Linked DNA regions of Homo sapiens: region 2 is linked to region 1. Evidence: fine-mapped expression QTL. Tissue or cell type: spleen. Region 1 holds a variant in brackets; the other region holds the start of a gene. All regions are shown on one strand. Distances are from middle to middle.

Evidence for each region. PIP is the estimated chance that this variant, and not a neighbour inherited with it, causes the effect.
Region 2: PON2 starts here. The variant in region 1 is fine-mapped to the expression of PON2 in spleen (GTEx, PIP 0.97).

Annotation. Positions count from the first base shown.
Region 1 is chr7:95,705,909-95,714,019 of GRCh38, reverse strand. All of the region lies in intron 2 of LOC105375409 (a long non-coding RNA gene), which reads right to left. Among named protein-coding and RNA genes, the nearest start is that of DYNC1I1, 63 kb to the left of the region's middle. The variant C/T (reference allele first, on the strand shown) is at 3,315.
Region 2 is chr7:95,430,188-95,438,298 of GRCh38, reverse strand. It overlaps PON2 (paraoxonase 2), which reads left to right and starts at 3,271. Exons shown (of 9, transcript NM_000305.3): 1 at 3,271-3,421. The coding sequence starts at 3,348. RefSeq lists an enhancer at 2,914-3,484 and a silencer at 3,159-3,588.

The DNA of each region.
Region 1 (8,111 bases):
TAAGTCTTGAAATCAGATAGTGTGAATCTTCTGAATTTAGTTCTTATTCAAAAATGTTTTGGCTATTCTAGATCCATTGTTTTCCATATAAATTTTAGATCAGCTTGTGAATTTCTATGCAAAAAAAAAAGACAATTTGGTGGGATTTTGATTGGCATTGTCTTGAATCTATAGATAAATTAGGAGTGTATTTACATCTTAATGACACTGAGTCCTCTAATTCACGAACACTATATATCTATTTATTTAGTTCCCTTTTGATTTCTTTCATCAGTGTTTTGTAGTTTTTAGCACACAAACCCACCACCTATTTTGTTAGATTTATACCTATGTATTTCATGTTATTGATGGTACTATAAATTACACTCTTTTTGTGAAGTTCAATTTTTAACTGTTCATTGAAGGTATGCATAAATAGAACAGATTTTTGTGTATTGATCCATACCTTGCCACCTTGCTAAACTGACATATTAGTTCTAGTAGTGAATGTGTAGATTTTCCATATTGTCTGATAATAGAGACAGTTTTCGTTTTTCATTTTTAATCTGTGTGGTTTTTGCTTCTTTTTTTTATCATCTTGTACTGGATAGAATCTTCAGTACAATGATTAATAGTGACAGTGAATATCCTTATTTATTCTCCCACTAGCAGATGTAAAGCATTGATTCTTTCACTTTATTAAGTATGATGTTAGCTGTAGAGTTTTGTAATAGATGATTTTAATCAGTTTAAGAAAGTTTCTTTTAATTTTTAATTTGTTGGAAGTTTCTATTATTGATAGATAATGCATTTTGTTAAATGTTTTTGTAGCTATGAAGATAACCAAGTTTTGTTTCTTGTTTAATCAGTTGATAAGTTTAATTACATTAATTGATTTTTGTTTTAAAAATTGAAGATTTTTTCCAATTGGAAACAAAATGAAATTTTTTAAGTTGAAAATTTGAACCAGCATTCCTGATATAGACCCTAATTCATTATAATATATTGGCCTTTTTATATATTGATAGATTCAGTTAGGTAATATTTTAGGACAAGAATTTATATCTATATTCATGAGGGATATTGTTTTATAGTTTTTTTAAGTTTTTCAAACGTATTTTTTTAATCAGTGTAATGCTCAACTAATAAAATGAGTTTGTTAAGTGTCTCTTTTTTTGTTTTTCTGAGTTTCTGTAGAACTGGTTTTATTTGTTCCTTAAATGTGTAGTAGAATTTGCAATTAAAGTCATCGCTGTGTGAAGTTTACTTTGTTCAAAGATTTTTAAAAAGAAATTTAATTACTTTAATCGGTATAGGACAATTTGGATTACATTTTCTGCTGGCATTACTGATGTGAGTCACCATGTCCAACCCTGTCTTTGTATTTAAATTGGGAAACTTTTAGAGAACGTATGATTGGGTCTTATTTGTTTGTTTGTTTTGTCCACTCCAACAATTTTTGACTTTTAATTGGTTTATTTAAACCACATTTAAAGTGATGAGCTATATAGTTGTATTAATATCCACTGTGTTTGTAACTACTGTCTGTTCATTACATTTGTTCTTTGTTTCTTTTTTATTTTCCTCTTTTTCTGTTCCCATTCATCCCTTAAAAAATTGCTGTCATTCATTTCATGTATCCATATACTATAGTCACACAGTAATTGTTACTATTTTCAGTTTAAACAGTTATTTATTTGATTAATTTATTTACAATAGCTATTTATTTGATCAATTCATTTATTTCTTCTTCAATGCTCTTTCTTTCTTCATGTAGATTAAAGTTTTTTTCCTATATCATTTTCCTTCTCTCTGAACTACTTTTTAAAAACATTTCTTGCAGGGAAAGTCTGCTGTTGATTAATTTCCCCAGTTTTTATTTGTATGAGAATGTTTTTATTTCTCTTTCACTTTTGAAAGATAATTTTGCCAGATATAATGGTATATTAGTGAAGATTTTTCTTTCAACACTTTAAATATTTCACTCCACTTTCTTCTTGCTTGCATAGTTTCTGATGGGAAGTCTGATGTAATTTTCATCATTGTTTCTTTTTAGGTAAGTTGTATTTTCCTTCTCTGGCTTTCTTCAAGATCTTCTCCTTGTCTTTGGTTTCCTGTAGTTTTAACATGATATTCCTAGGTAAAGATTTTTGGTATTTATACTGTTTTGTGTTCTTTGAACTTCCTGAATCTGTGATTTGATGCCTGACACTAATTTTGGAAAATTCTCAGTCATTATTACTTCAAATATTTATTCTGCTTGGTTCTTATTTTCTTTTCCTTCTGGTATTCCAGTTATGCATGTATCATGCCTTTTGAAGTTGTCTCACATTTCTTGGATGAGTTGTTCTGGTTTTTTTTTAATTATTGTTATTTTTTCTCTTTGCCTTTCTGCTTGGGAAGTTGTATTGGCATATCTTCAAGTTCACTGATTCTTTTCTTGGCCATATCCAGTCTACTGGTGAGCTCATAACAGGCATTCTGTATTTCTGTTGCAGTGTTTTTTAAATTTATTTATTGCATTTCCATTTGATTCTTTTTTAGATTACCTGTCTCTGCTTATATTATCTATTTACTCTTAAATTTTGTCTTTCTTCCATTAGATTCATTCATATATTAATCATAGTGATATTAAATTCTCTGATAATTCTAAATTCTGTGACATATCTGAGTCCGGTCTTATGCTTACTTTGTTTCTTCAGATTATGTTTGTTTCTGGCCATTAAGCATTACTTGCAAGTTAAAAAAAAATCCAGACAAGATGTATCAATTAATAGGAACTAAGGTAAAAAGGCCTTTGTTATGAGAGTTTATGCTAATCTGGCTAGGTGTTGGCTATGTTTAATGTTTCCTGTACATGGTTTCAATTTCCTTTAGAGTCCTTTTTGTGTTGTTGTTCTTTTTCCATTGTTGTCTTTGGGTTTCCATTTAAAGCTTCTTCAGCTGTGATCCACTGTTATAGTGGAATCCCATTGATGTGGTAGTGAAGTGTGGAAGGAAGAAACACATTCTATAATCCTATGATTAAATTTCAGTCTTTAATGAACCTGTGTCTCTGGGCTATAACCCATTTTCCTCCCTCACATGAGACAAGAGGGCTAGAGAGGACTGGAGTTGGGTAATTTCCTCCAAGCTGAATAGGCTCTAATAAAGTCTTTTCCCCTGGTGAATAAGACTTTGTTATGGAGAATGCTCTGGGCATATCTCAAAATGGTTACATTTTCCCTCCCACTTCTAGAAATGTGAGAGCTCTTTCTTGGCTTATCACTGTGAGAAACTGATGGGATTCCTGGAAACAAAACCTATGAAAATGTGGAGGATCCCCAATACTCTGT[C/T]ACCCCCCAAAATCCATCACTCTCATGCTAATCTACATTCTGCCTTCAGCAATTCATCAAAGTTACCATATAAGTGTTCTTATCAGTTTGCAGCTCAAGTAGTTCCTGTTCTAGGTAAATTCATCTCATCTGTGATTCTCTGCATTCACCTGTCTCTCCAGATGTTGGTGTGGCAGTATGCCCTACAAAGAGGTTCTCTGATGGATTCAATAAAAATCAGTGGTTTTCAATTTATTCACTTATTTTGTTCTTGTAAGGGGAGTAGTGGTAACTTCTAAGTTCTCTACATATTGGAGTTGAAACCAGAAATTTTTATTTTATTTTATATATCCTATAAACTCGCATTGCTACTATATTTGTTTATAGATGAATAACAATCTTTTAGAGCAATTAAAATAAAATTAAAGATATCTTTTATATTTATCCTTATTTTATACATTAATGGAGTTGTTCACTTCTTTGTGTAAACCCAGTTTTCTGCTAGCTAACATATTCCTTCTGCCTGAAGATTTTCTTCATCATTTTTTTTTAGATGGATTCTTACTCTGTCATCAGGCTGCAGTGCAGGGGCACAATCTCAGCTCACTGCAACCTCTGCCTCCCGGGTTCAAGCAATTCTCCTGCCTCAGCCTCCCGAGTAGCTGGGACTACAGGCACCCACCACCACACCTGGCTAATTTTTGTATTTTTAGTAGAGACGGGATTTCACCATGTTGGCCAGGATGGTCTCAATCTCTTGACCTTGTGATCCACCCGCCTCGGCCTCCCAAAGTGCAGGTGTGAGCCACGTGCCCGGCGATTTTCTTCATCATTTCTCATCATGCTGTGCCGCTGTTAATAAATTCCCTCAATTTTTGTTTTGCTGAAATAAAAGGTCATCATTTCTCATTCATTTTTGAGATTTTTGCTGGGCTTAGGATTTTTAAATTGACAGGTATGTTTCTTTCTCAACATTTTAATGATGTCACTCCATTGTTTTCTGGCTTGCATATTTCTGATAATTCATCTGGTGTAATTTCTATATTTTTTATCGTTGTATGTAATGTGTCTTTAAAAAATCTGTATTCTGTTAAGATTTGCTTTTATCTTGGTTCAGCCGTTCAATCACGATGAAGTAGACACATTTCACTGTATTTCTTCCACTATCTGAATGTTAAAATCCTGGACAAAATGCATAAAACACTGGAAGACTCTTACATGAGAGAAAAGAAGGTGTACTGCCTAGGAATTTTGGAACTTGAAAAATGACAGTGGTCTGTTCCCTTTTTCTGGTTTTTGTTTTGTTTTGTTTTTTGTCTCTCATATACCCCATCTTGATCACTAGAGAAGAACACAACTTGGAAATGCCAATAGGCACAGGCCAAGAAGCTCCAGAAAAATCCTACTTTCTCTAGCCAAAGGACGTGAAAAGGAGTGGGCCAATAGGAGAGTACTCTTTGAGCAGTACCCATCCTATTCCAGCCAAACACAGTACAAAAAGAAAAATGCCCCTTCTCACATACCAGGCACTGCAGGAAACATGGACACTGTGAGCAGAGCTCTGACTTCGTCCTCATCTGGTAGTAATAAGTGGTTGGGTACTCCTTATAGTCTCAGCCAGTTAAGTGTATGTAGAGACAGTGGGGTGTGATGGGTCTAGGCTTCCATTCATGATTTGTAGTAACTAGTCAGCACTTCTCTCTTTGCAACTTGAGGTTAGGGAAAGAATTACAGAAAGGAAGTAGTTGAAGAAAGAGATACTTTATTTATTCATTTAACTTTTATTTTAGGTTCAGGGGTACATGTGCAGATTTCTTATTACAGACAAATTTGTATTATGTGGGTTTGGTGCACAGACCATATTGTCACCCGGGTACTGAGCAGAGAGCCTGAATGTTTGTTTGTTTGTTTGTTTCTGAACCTCTCCCTCCTCCCTCAAGTAGGTCTTAGTGTCTGTTTTTCCCCTCGCTGTGGCCATTAGTTCTCATTAGTTAGCTCCCACTTATAAGTGAGAACATATGGTATTTGGTTTTCTGTTCCTGGGTTGGTTAGGTAAGGATAATGGCCTCCAGCTCCATCTATGTTCCTGCAAAGGACATGATTTCATTATTTTATATGGCTTCACAGTATTTCAAGGTGTATATTTACCACATTTTCTTTATCCAGTCTATCATTGGTGGGCATTTAGTTTGATTTCATGTCTTTGCTATTGTGAATAGTGCTGCAATGAACATATGTGTGCATGTGTCCTTATGGTAGAGCAATTTATATTCATTTGGGTATATACCCAGTAATAGGATTGCTGGGTTTAATGCTAGTTCTCTTTTTATTTTTTTGAGGGATGACCACACTGCTTCCAACAATGGTTGGACTAATTTACATAGCAGTATGGCAATAATTTACATTGCCATATGGCAATGAGAAGAATGCATAATCCATTGTTTTTGGATGGAGAGTTCTGTCAATGTCTATTAGGTTCATTTGATCAAGACTTGAGTTCAGGTTCTGAATATATTTGTTAATTTTCTCCCTGTCTAATACTGCCAGTGGGATTTTGAAGACTCCCACTATTATTGTGTGGGAGTCTAAGTGTCTTTGAAGATCTCTAAGAACTTGCTTTATGAATCTGGGTGCTCCTGTGTTGGGTACATATATTTAGGATAGTTAGATCTTGTTGAATTGAACCCTTTACCATTATATAATGACCTTCTTTGTCTCTTTTTATCTTTGTTGGTTAAATCAAAGTCTGTTTTGTCTGGAATTAGGGTTGCAACCCCTGCTTTTTTCTGTTCTCTATTTGCTTGGTAGATTTTTCTTCAACCCTTTATTTTGAATCTATGAGTGTCATTGCATGTGAGATGGGTCTTGATAACAGCATACCATTGGGTCTTGCTTCTTTATCCATCTTGTCACTCTGTGCCTTTTAATTGGGAAATTTCGTCTATTTACATTCAAGTTACTGTTGATGTGTGTGGATTTGAAACTGTCATTGTATTGTTAGGTTGTTGTTACACAGACTTATTTGTGTGGTTGCTTTATAGTGTCACTGGTCTGTGTATGTACTTCAGTGTGTTCTTGTTGTGGCTGGAAATGTTCTTTCCTTTCTATATTTAGTGCTTCTTTCAGGAGCTCTTGTAAGGCAGGTCTGGTCGTCATGAATCTCTCAGCATTTGCTTCTCTGAGAAGGATCCTTTTTCTCCTCCACTTTTGAAGCATGGATATGAAATTCTTGGTTGGAAATTTTTTTGTTGTTGTTGAATGTGGGCCCCTCATCCCCTCTGGCTAGTAGGGTTTCTGCTGAAACATCTGCTATAGACTTTTAGACTTCTATGGACTTTTTAGCCTGATGGAATTCCCTTAGGAATTCCCTTAGGAGAACTGCCCTGTCTCTCTAGCAGCCTTTAATATTTTTTCTTTCATTGCAATCTTGGAAAACCTGACGATTAAATAATTATACGTCTTGGGTATGAAATTTTTGTGTAGTATCTTGCAAGGGTTCTCTTTATTTCCTGAATTTGGATGTTGGATTCTCTAGTGAGGCTGGGGAAGTTTTCATGGATAACATCCTGAAATGTGTTTTCCAAATTGCTTGCTTTCTCCCCCTCTCTTTTAGGAGCACTAATGGTCTATAGATTTAGCCTCTACATAATCCCATACTTCATGGAGGTTTTGTTCATTCATTTTCCTTCTTTTTTTTTTTTTAATTATCTGATTGTCTTATTTTAGAGAGCCAGTCTTCAAGTTCTGAGATTCTTTCCTCAGCTTGGTCTATTCTACTGTTAATACTTGTGATAATATTGTGTCTGGAGTTGGTTCCTTCTGGTGGGTTTGTGGTCTTGCTGACTTCAAAAATGAAGCCGCGGACCTTCGCGGTGAGTGTTACAGCCCTTCAAGATGGCACGGACCCAAAGAATGGGCAGTAGCAAGGTTTATTGTGAAGAGCAAAAGAACAAAGCTTCCACAGTGTGGAAGGGGACCTGAATGGGTTGCTACTTCTGGCTGGGGTGGCCAGCTTTTATTCCCTTATTTGTCTGCTCCCATGTTCTGTTTCTGCCCTATTAGAATGCCCTTTTTTCAATCCTCCCTGCGATTGGCTACTTTTGGGATCCTGCTGATTGGTGCATTTTACAGAGTGCTGATTGGTGCATTTTACAGAGCGCTGATTGGTGCATTTTACAATCCTCTTGCTAACTACAGAGCGCTGATTGGTGTGTTTTTACAGAGCACTGATTGGTGCATTTTACAATCCCCTTGCTAGCTACAGAGCACTGATTGGTGCATTTTACAATCCTAGCTACTGAGTGCTGATTGGTGTGTTTTACAATCCTCTTGCTAGACAGAAAAGTTCTCCAAGTCCCCACTCTACCAAGGAAGTCCAGCTGGCTTCACTTCTCAATATTATGAAATTCTTATGGTGTATTTTTTAGCTCTATCAGGTCATATAGGTTCTTTTTTATACTGGCTGTTTAATCTGTTAGCTCCCATATTATTTTATTTTCATTCTTAGCTTTCTTGAATTTGGTTTCAAAGTTCTACTGAATCTCAATGATCTTCACTCCTATCTATATTTGGGATTCTATTTCTGTCATTTCAACCATCCCAGCCTGGTTAAGAACCCTTGTTGGAGAACTAGTGTGCTTGTTTGGAGAACAGAAGACACTCTGGGCATTTGACTTGCCAGAGTTCTTGTGCTGGTTCTTTCTCATGTCTGTGTGTGCATGCTCCTTTAACTGTGGTATAAATTGAGTACAGTCAGTAGACTTTCTTTTTGCATGTTTCCAGAGGGCTGAGGCTTTGTGCAGAGTCTTTATTTGTAGC
Region 2 (8,111 bases), 280 kb after region 1:
TCAACCGCAACATTCAGAAAGAGAAAGAATATGGGGGTAGAAGATTCCTCACACAGATTATTGGGGGAACTCACTGGTCATGTTAATAAAGTTAAAATAAGGTTTCCATTTCTCTTGATTCTCTGAGGGTGAGCTTAGGTAGGTTTTGGTGGACTTGAAAGTCCTGGCTCATTATCACAAATGCTTCCATGCTAAATCCCAAGGTGTTGTTCCTCCTGACCACCCAGCACCAAGATGGCAAACAGGTTTCATCCTGAACTGAAATCTGTTCCCTAGCTCAGGGATTCTTATTTCCCTTTCGTTGTTGTTTTAAAAAATTGTGAGGACAAGTCTGGGTGTGATGAGACACTTTGCCAAAATCAATTAGTGACGCCTACCATGGGCCAGGGAAGAAAGGAAAGTCAGCACAAAAGCTGGTTTTGGTTGTTGTTGTTGTTTTTGCTATCCTGAGACTAGCCTAAAAGATGTAGACCTCCAACCCTTTAATGTCACCTGGAACCAGGTTGAAGAACATGACTATTAAGAACATGACTTTTTTCTTTTTAAAAAATTGGGAATAGCAAAAGGGAAATAGACAGAGAATAGCATATACTTGGATATTCTTATTTGCCATCTATGTGGTTTCCTCATTTTGCGGAACTTGTGGAAAGACACGGTAGCCTGGCTCCTGACCCAGAATCCATGAGGCATAGTTGTATGTACTTCCCTTGGGGCCTAAGAGATTAAGAGAGAAGCCCAGACAATAGTCCAAGGCCCTCTGCTTTAGGTCTTTCTTCTAAATTCTGATTCTTTAATTTTTTTTTTTTGTTAATTTTAATTTTTTTTTTGTAGAGATGGGTTCTCCCTATGTTGCCCACAATGGTCTTGAACTCCCCGCTTCAAGTGATCCTCCCACCTGGGCCTTTCAAAGTGCTGAGATTATAGGCAAGAGCTACCTTGCCAGGCCTAAATTCTGATTTTGTATCTGAGGCTCTTCTCTTCCTCAATAATTGACACCAAAAATAGTCCTAGAAAGGAGATTCCACCCTTCTCTAAACAGTCATAGCCTTAGCCTATGTCAGAGTTCTTAACCCAGTGGTCCATTGATAGTTCAGAGGAATTAATGACCTTGGATAAGAAAAAAAAAATCTTGATTTCAAATGGAATTTAGCATTTTCTTCAATTACAAAACTAGCAGACAAACCTCAGAAGCATTTGCAGTACTTGTGACTGTTACTAATGGAAATAACAGTTATTTTCATTATTTCATTATAGTTGTTTTCAGTATCATGAAAGAACATTTGCACTCCTCTTTATTTAAAAGAATGTTGCTAGATCTTGTTATTTAATATGTTAAATAATGTTGCACACATTACATTACCACATTACTATAGCAAAAAATTATGTTTTAGATATTTTAACAATTACATTTCAATTGTTGACCTTTAATTTTAAAGCTAAGGCAAAATTAATGTAAGTAGAGAGTTTATTTGGGCCAAGTTTGAGTACTGCAACCCAGGAGTATAGATTCAAGTTTCCCTAAATATACACTCTGATTAGCAGCAGTTACACATAGATTTTTAAGGGGAAGGAAGAGGCAGTTCCTAAATTCCTTGCGTTAAAATAACATAAGCTGTGGATTGGTTATACTTTGTTCTTTGTATCATAAATTCCAGGAATATGAAGATAATGGGTGGGACAGCTACTCGGGAACAAAATGTCTTTAAACAACTGTCCCCAGGCATGGGTATTGGGGCGTGACTGAAGTCCCATACTCATGTCGCTCTGGGCCTGATAAATTTTGCATACCTCACAAAGCTCAGACTGCTCTCAGCTATTTTTTTTCCTTACAATGTAATTGATTTTCTTTGCAATCTATACATTTTATTCATTTATTTAAAATTTTTTTTTCTTCTTTCTTTTTTTCATGAACCGCACAGAGAAAATTTATGCATTTTATTGTAAGCATTTATAAACATTATTCTAAGAAGTTATCCACAGGCTCACCACTGCCAGAAGGGTCCACGACACAAAAAAGGTAATGCCTCATGGGCTTTCAAAGGACAACTTTTTACTTCTCTTTCTACCATCCAGTATAATCCAATATCCTTAGGACTGAAGCAGAGATACACACACACACAGGGAGAGAGGTGTTTGTGCTTTTTTTTTTTTTTTTTTTTTTTGGTGAGAGGCAGGTGGGAAATTGGCATCCACTTTTATTTACTGGTTCTTTATAAAACTGATATTTGTTGAAAATTGTCAAGTGTGACCATTTCTGCCTACATATTGTAGGGTGGCAATTAAATACCGAAAACCATTAGAAGCTTATTTCAGATGTACTCATTTATTGTAATGGTATCAATCTTGATGGGTAAATTTCATTTTACTTTTAAAATTGTATTTTAAATTATTCCTTCATGTTACGGTTGTTAGAGTAAAAACGGAAAAGAAAAAAACTACACTTCTTCCCTTTGAGTTTGGATGAAAAAGACGTGTCTAAGTCCTTAAGTCTGTAGTCTGGAAGTATTAATAGAGGCTGGGCATGGTGGCTCATTCCTGTAATTCTAGCACTTTGGGAGGCTGAGGCAGGAGGATGGCTTGAGTCCAGGAGTTTGAGACCAACCTGGGCAACACAGCAAGACTCGGTCTCCACACACACACACACAGACACACACACAACTTACACACACTTAGCTAGGTGTAACGGTACGTGCCTGCGGTCCCAGCTACTCAGGAGGCTGAGGCTGGAGGGTCCCTTGAGTCCGGGAGGTCCAGACTGCAGTGAGCTATGATTGTGCCAATGTACTCCAGCCTAGGCAACACAGCGAGACCCTGTTAAAAAAAAAAAAAAAAAGTATTACGAGGCACAGGATGTTTATTTATTCGCAACTACGTCCTGTTATAAAAAGTAGTGATTCCAACGTGAAATATTTACACGACGCATCCCGTTACTTTCCCTCCCTTGGCCACCGACCCCCATCCCCAAAAGCTGCTTTCTATGTAAGTTTCTCACTGGAATAGCGAGTGAGAAATGTGTTTGAAGACTAGGGAAACGAGAAAGGTATGCGGGCTGCTAGAGGGTTTCGGGTGGGTTGTTTGAAAAAGGAAGTGAAGGAATTCAAAGTTTCACATCATGAGCCTAATGTAAGGCGTGTCCGGGCCGTCCCGAAGGTATCTGGGGAAATAGGTTTGTGAGGACAAAGACCAGGGCCAGGCCCAGGGCGGAGCCTCCGCGGCCCCGACGCAGGGACTCGGCCTAGGCGGAGGACGGGGCGGAGCGCGGCCGGCACCATCGAGCCGGGAAGATGGCACCGCCCACGGAGCTGCTGGCCAGGCCGGAGCGAGGCAGCGCGCCCGGCTCCCGCGCCATGGGGCGGCTGGTGGCTGTGGGCTTGCTGGGGATCGCGCTGGCGCTCCTGGGCGAGAGGCTTCTGGCACTCAGGTAGGTGGGACTCCCGCGCGCCCCTCCTCGGCGGTCCCCAGGCTCGGGGTGGCCGCGTGGTGCGGGGAGGGCGCAGGCTGGGGGAGGGATTCCTGCGGGACCTGGCCCTGCGGCCGGGGGTGGAGAATTTTTGAATGCTGTCCCTCCCCCAGCTAGTTGAACCCCCATCACCCCGACTCTCCGCTTCTAGTGAAAAAACTAGCAAAGTTTGGAGTGAATCGCGACACTTTCTTGAAAGTTTATAAGCCCTTGCTGCTAACAAAGTTCTCTTCTGCTTAGGCTGACAAGAGAATGCTTTGCAATTACCCAAGGGCCAAACTAGTGGTTTAAATTGAAAACAAAATGACTACTCATGCATTGAAACCTTAACTATGAAGATTTATTTCAGGTCATTGGTGCTGTTTCTCCTTGTTGCCCAAACCAGACCCGTCTTTAATAAAGTTGTTCTCCACCCATTTCTGCATAGTTTGAGAAACTCTTCAGCTGTAGATCAAAGACACTTGAAATATTCAGCTACTGTTCTTACTTCCTATTTATTCACCAGGGAAGCCTGAAGCCAGAATGCCAGACAGCGCAGACACTATTCCATCTCGCATTTTAGTTTTAATGAAAATCTCTGGTAGGTAGACATCATCGTTTATAAATTACCAACTCAACGTTTGTTTTTTGTTTATTTTATTTTTTGTAGAGATGGGGTCTTGCTGTATTGCCCAGGCTGTTCCCTAACTCTTGCACTCAAGCAATCCTCCAGCCTAGGCCTCCCCACAGTGCTGGGATTACAGGTGTGAGCTGTTCTGCCCTGCCTCAACCAAAATTTTATAGGCCTCATGCAAAAGAGTTCCAGAAAGACTGAGCACCTGCTATGTGTAATGTTCTCTCTTAGGCTTCTATAGTAGAGTACGACCCTTATGGAGTTTGATACAGGGGAAGAGAGAATTAAAATACAGTAAATGTATAAATTAGGATGTTCTAAGGACAGACACAAATGAACCGCATAGGCTTAAAGAGGAAAGATTCCATCCCCTGAGGGTGGAGTTCTAGAGGGAGGAAGAGACATTCGACCTGACCTTGAAGGGTGGGTGCAACACATATGAGCATGAAGGGGCCCATGCCAAATGTATAGTGCAGCAGGAGCAAAGGGGCTAAGGTGGGAAGTTGGAAGACTAGCAAATGGGCCAATTTGAAGGGAGCATAAAGTCAGGAGATGAGAATAGTAGGGTGGTGGGAAGGATAGGTTTTGAGGCCATTAAATATAAGTTGAAAAATGGGGCCCCACTTTCATAGGCCCAATAGTGCTTCAAAAGGGAAATATTGGTGGGTTTTGCTTTTCAACAAGAACTTAATATAACTAGTTGTGTTTTATAGAGATAAGCCTGGAAGGGGGGATTGGAGGAGAGCAATGGTTCTCTGTACATTAGAATCTCCTGGAGGGCTGGTGTCTGAGTGGCACCACCAAAGATTCTGATTCAGCTGTTCTGGATCAGAATCTACAGCTCACACCTGTAATCCCAGCACTGTTGGAGGCCTAAGCCAGAAGATTGCTTGAGCCCAGGAGTTAGTGACAGGCCTGGGCAACATAGCAAGATCCCACCTCTACAAAATGAATAAATAAATAAATAAATAAATAAAAAACAAAATTTGAGTTGGTAATTTATAAACTATGGTGTCTACCTACCAGAGATTTTTCGTTATAATTAAAATGTGATATGGAATAATGTATTGTTTGGCAAGCTGGCTTCAGGGTTCCCAGGTAAATAGATAAATAAGGAAGTGCATAATGTAAGAACAGTGGCTGACAGTAGCAGTGGCATTTTTTATTTTTAAAAACATTCCTGATAATTCTAATGAGCAGTCAAGGTCGAGAACTACTAGAATAGAGAGCAGACATGGGGTAACTGGTTAAGGTATTGCAGTAGGTCAGAGAGGATAACAGGGACCCAAACTCTGGAACCCCAGGGATGAGGGAGAAGTCAAAGGTGCTACCAGAGTTTGTGCCACAGCTCCACTGTCCCATGGTTGTAGTTTCATCTACTGATAAAGCAGTGCAAAGAGGAAGCGTGTGGTGGCTGAGATGGGAGTGAGATTTGAGGAAAGAACGCTTATGGGTAGGAAATGGACATGTTGACCTTAATTTTCATGTTAGGTAATGCCCATTGTGCTCTACAGAACATTCATGAGTTGGATGACTTTGTATATGATCTGTCCTGCTCTCCATTTCAAAGGCAAGACCACCAAAATTCACAAGCTTATTATGTTGTCACTAATGTGTAAGCCACCAGTTTTTCTGCAAGTTGGAAGTTTTCTCAACAGTCAAATATTCCCCCTTCTCACTAATCTTAAGGTTTTAAAGTTATAGCTGCAAATCTAAAAAAAAAAGAAAAAGTAAATAAAACTTATTGACAGAATGCCTGATAGTTTATTTACAGGTTTTTGTTTGTTTGTTTTTTGTTTTTCTTTGTTTTTTATTTTGACACAAGGTCTTGCTCTGCCGCCCAAGCCAGAGTACAGTGGTACATCAAAGCTCACTGCAATCTCAAACACCTAGGCACAAGCAGTCCTCCCTCCTCAGCCTCCTGAGTAGCTGGGACTACAGATGCATGCTACCATGCCCAGCTAGTATTTTTATTTCTTGCAGAGACAGGGTCTCACTTTGTTGCCCAGGCTAATCTCAAACTCCCAGCCTCAAGTGATGCTCCTGCCTCAGCCTCCCAAAGTGGTAGGATTATACACATGAGCCACCACCCTCGGCCTACTTTACAATTTGATGCACCTTTTCTTTACGTGACTGTGATGCACTTTAATGGGCAGTGACTTTATAAAATGGTAACTTTATTGGATATGTGGAGCCCCAAATGGGCTGACGTGAGAATGTTGGGGTAGGTGGTGGGTGGCTGGATTTAGCAAAGAAAAATGTAGGCTACCCAGTTAACTTTGAATTTCACATGGATTTTTTTTTTTTTTTTTAGTATAAGCATGAAATACTTATACCATACTTTTAGCATTAAGCGTGGAATTTGGGACATAATTATACTAAAATATCATTCATTGTTTATCTCAAATTAAAATATCACTGGGTACCCTGTATTTTATCATATGTTCGAGTGCCTTCTGTCAGAATTTGGTGACCCTTTGAGTCTGTTTTAAAAAGGAGCATGTTTGGCCGGACACAGTGGCTCACGTCTGTAATCCCAGCACTTTGGGAGGCTGAGGCGGGCAGATCACTAGAGGTCAGGGGTTCAAGACCAGCCTGGCCAACATGGTGAAACCCCGTCTCTAATAAAAATACAAAAATTAGCCAGGTGTGGTGGTGCATCCCTGTAATCCCAGCTACTTGGGAGGCTGAGTCAGGAGAATTGCTTGAACCCCAGAGGTAGAGGTTGCAGTGAGCCAAGATTGAGCCACTGGACTCCAGCCTGGACAACAGAGAAAGACTCCCTCAAAAAAAAAAGAAAAAAAGCATGTTCCCACCTCCCCATAAGGAAAGGCTCTTCAGAGGAAGTTGAAGGAACAGAGGCTTTATGTTTGATTTTTGCTTTAATCTGATGCCTACTGTTTGATTATTCAATATTTAGAGATGGTACTTTGGCAATCAAGTTATTTCTCTCCCCAGGTTGCCCACTTCAATTTTTAGTATAAGGATGTCCCAGAGGGATAAATGCCATCAAAGTTGTCTTTCTTCTTCTGAACTGTAACTGGGATTCCACACCCTCCTTTTCCACCCCTCCCTAGTTGAGCAATAAAGGGGAAAATAACAGTATACAAATATTCCCAGGCCAGTTCCTGGTGTCAAGGTACACAGCCATGGATGAATCATGAGGCTTGAGTGCATCAGAGACCTAAGCGTGGGCAGGAACCCCCAGAGTACCCATGTGAATGTTCTGCTTGCTGCCTCGCACCTTTTATGACAATTCCCACAAGAAGCTATGTGGTCTGTTTCTACTTCTGAAAGAGCAGCCTTTTTCCCTTTTTTTTTTTTTTAAACCACCATCCTTTAAATCATTTATTATGTAACTCTTGTGTGCTGGTCAGTCAGTGTGTCAAAAGTGTAAAAACTTCTTTATTTATTTTTTTAATCTATCTTTTAAAAAATATTTTCTTTCTTTTTTTCTTTTTTCTTCAAGGCAGGTTCTTGCTCTGTCACCCAGGCTGGAGTGCAGCAGCACAATCATAGCTCATTGTAACCCAGAACACCTGGGCTCAAGCAATCCTCCCACCTCAGCCTCCTAAGCAGTGAGGACTATAGGCATGCACCACTACACCTGGCTAATTAAAAAAACATGGCCGGGCACGGTGGCTCATTACTATAATCCCAGCACTTTGGGAGGCTGAGGCGGGTGGATACCTGAGGTCGGGAGTTCAAGACCAGCCTGACCAACATGGTGAAACCCCATCTCTACTAAAAATACAAAATTAGCCAGGCACGGTGGCACATGCCTGTAATCCCAGCTACTCAGGAGGCTGAGGCAGGAGAATCACTTGAACCCGGGAGGCGGAGGTTGCAGTGAGCCATTGCACTCCAGCCTGGCAACAGAGCGAGACTCTGTCTCAAAAAAAAAAAAACAAAAAAATTTTTTTGTAGAGATGGGGGTCTTGCTGTGTTGCCCAGGCTGATCTCAAACTTCTAGCCATAAGTGATCCTACCGCATCAACTTCCCAAAGCACTGGGATTATGGGTATGAGCTACTGAGCC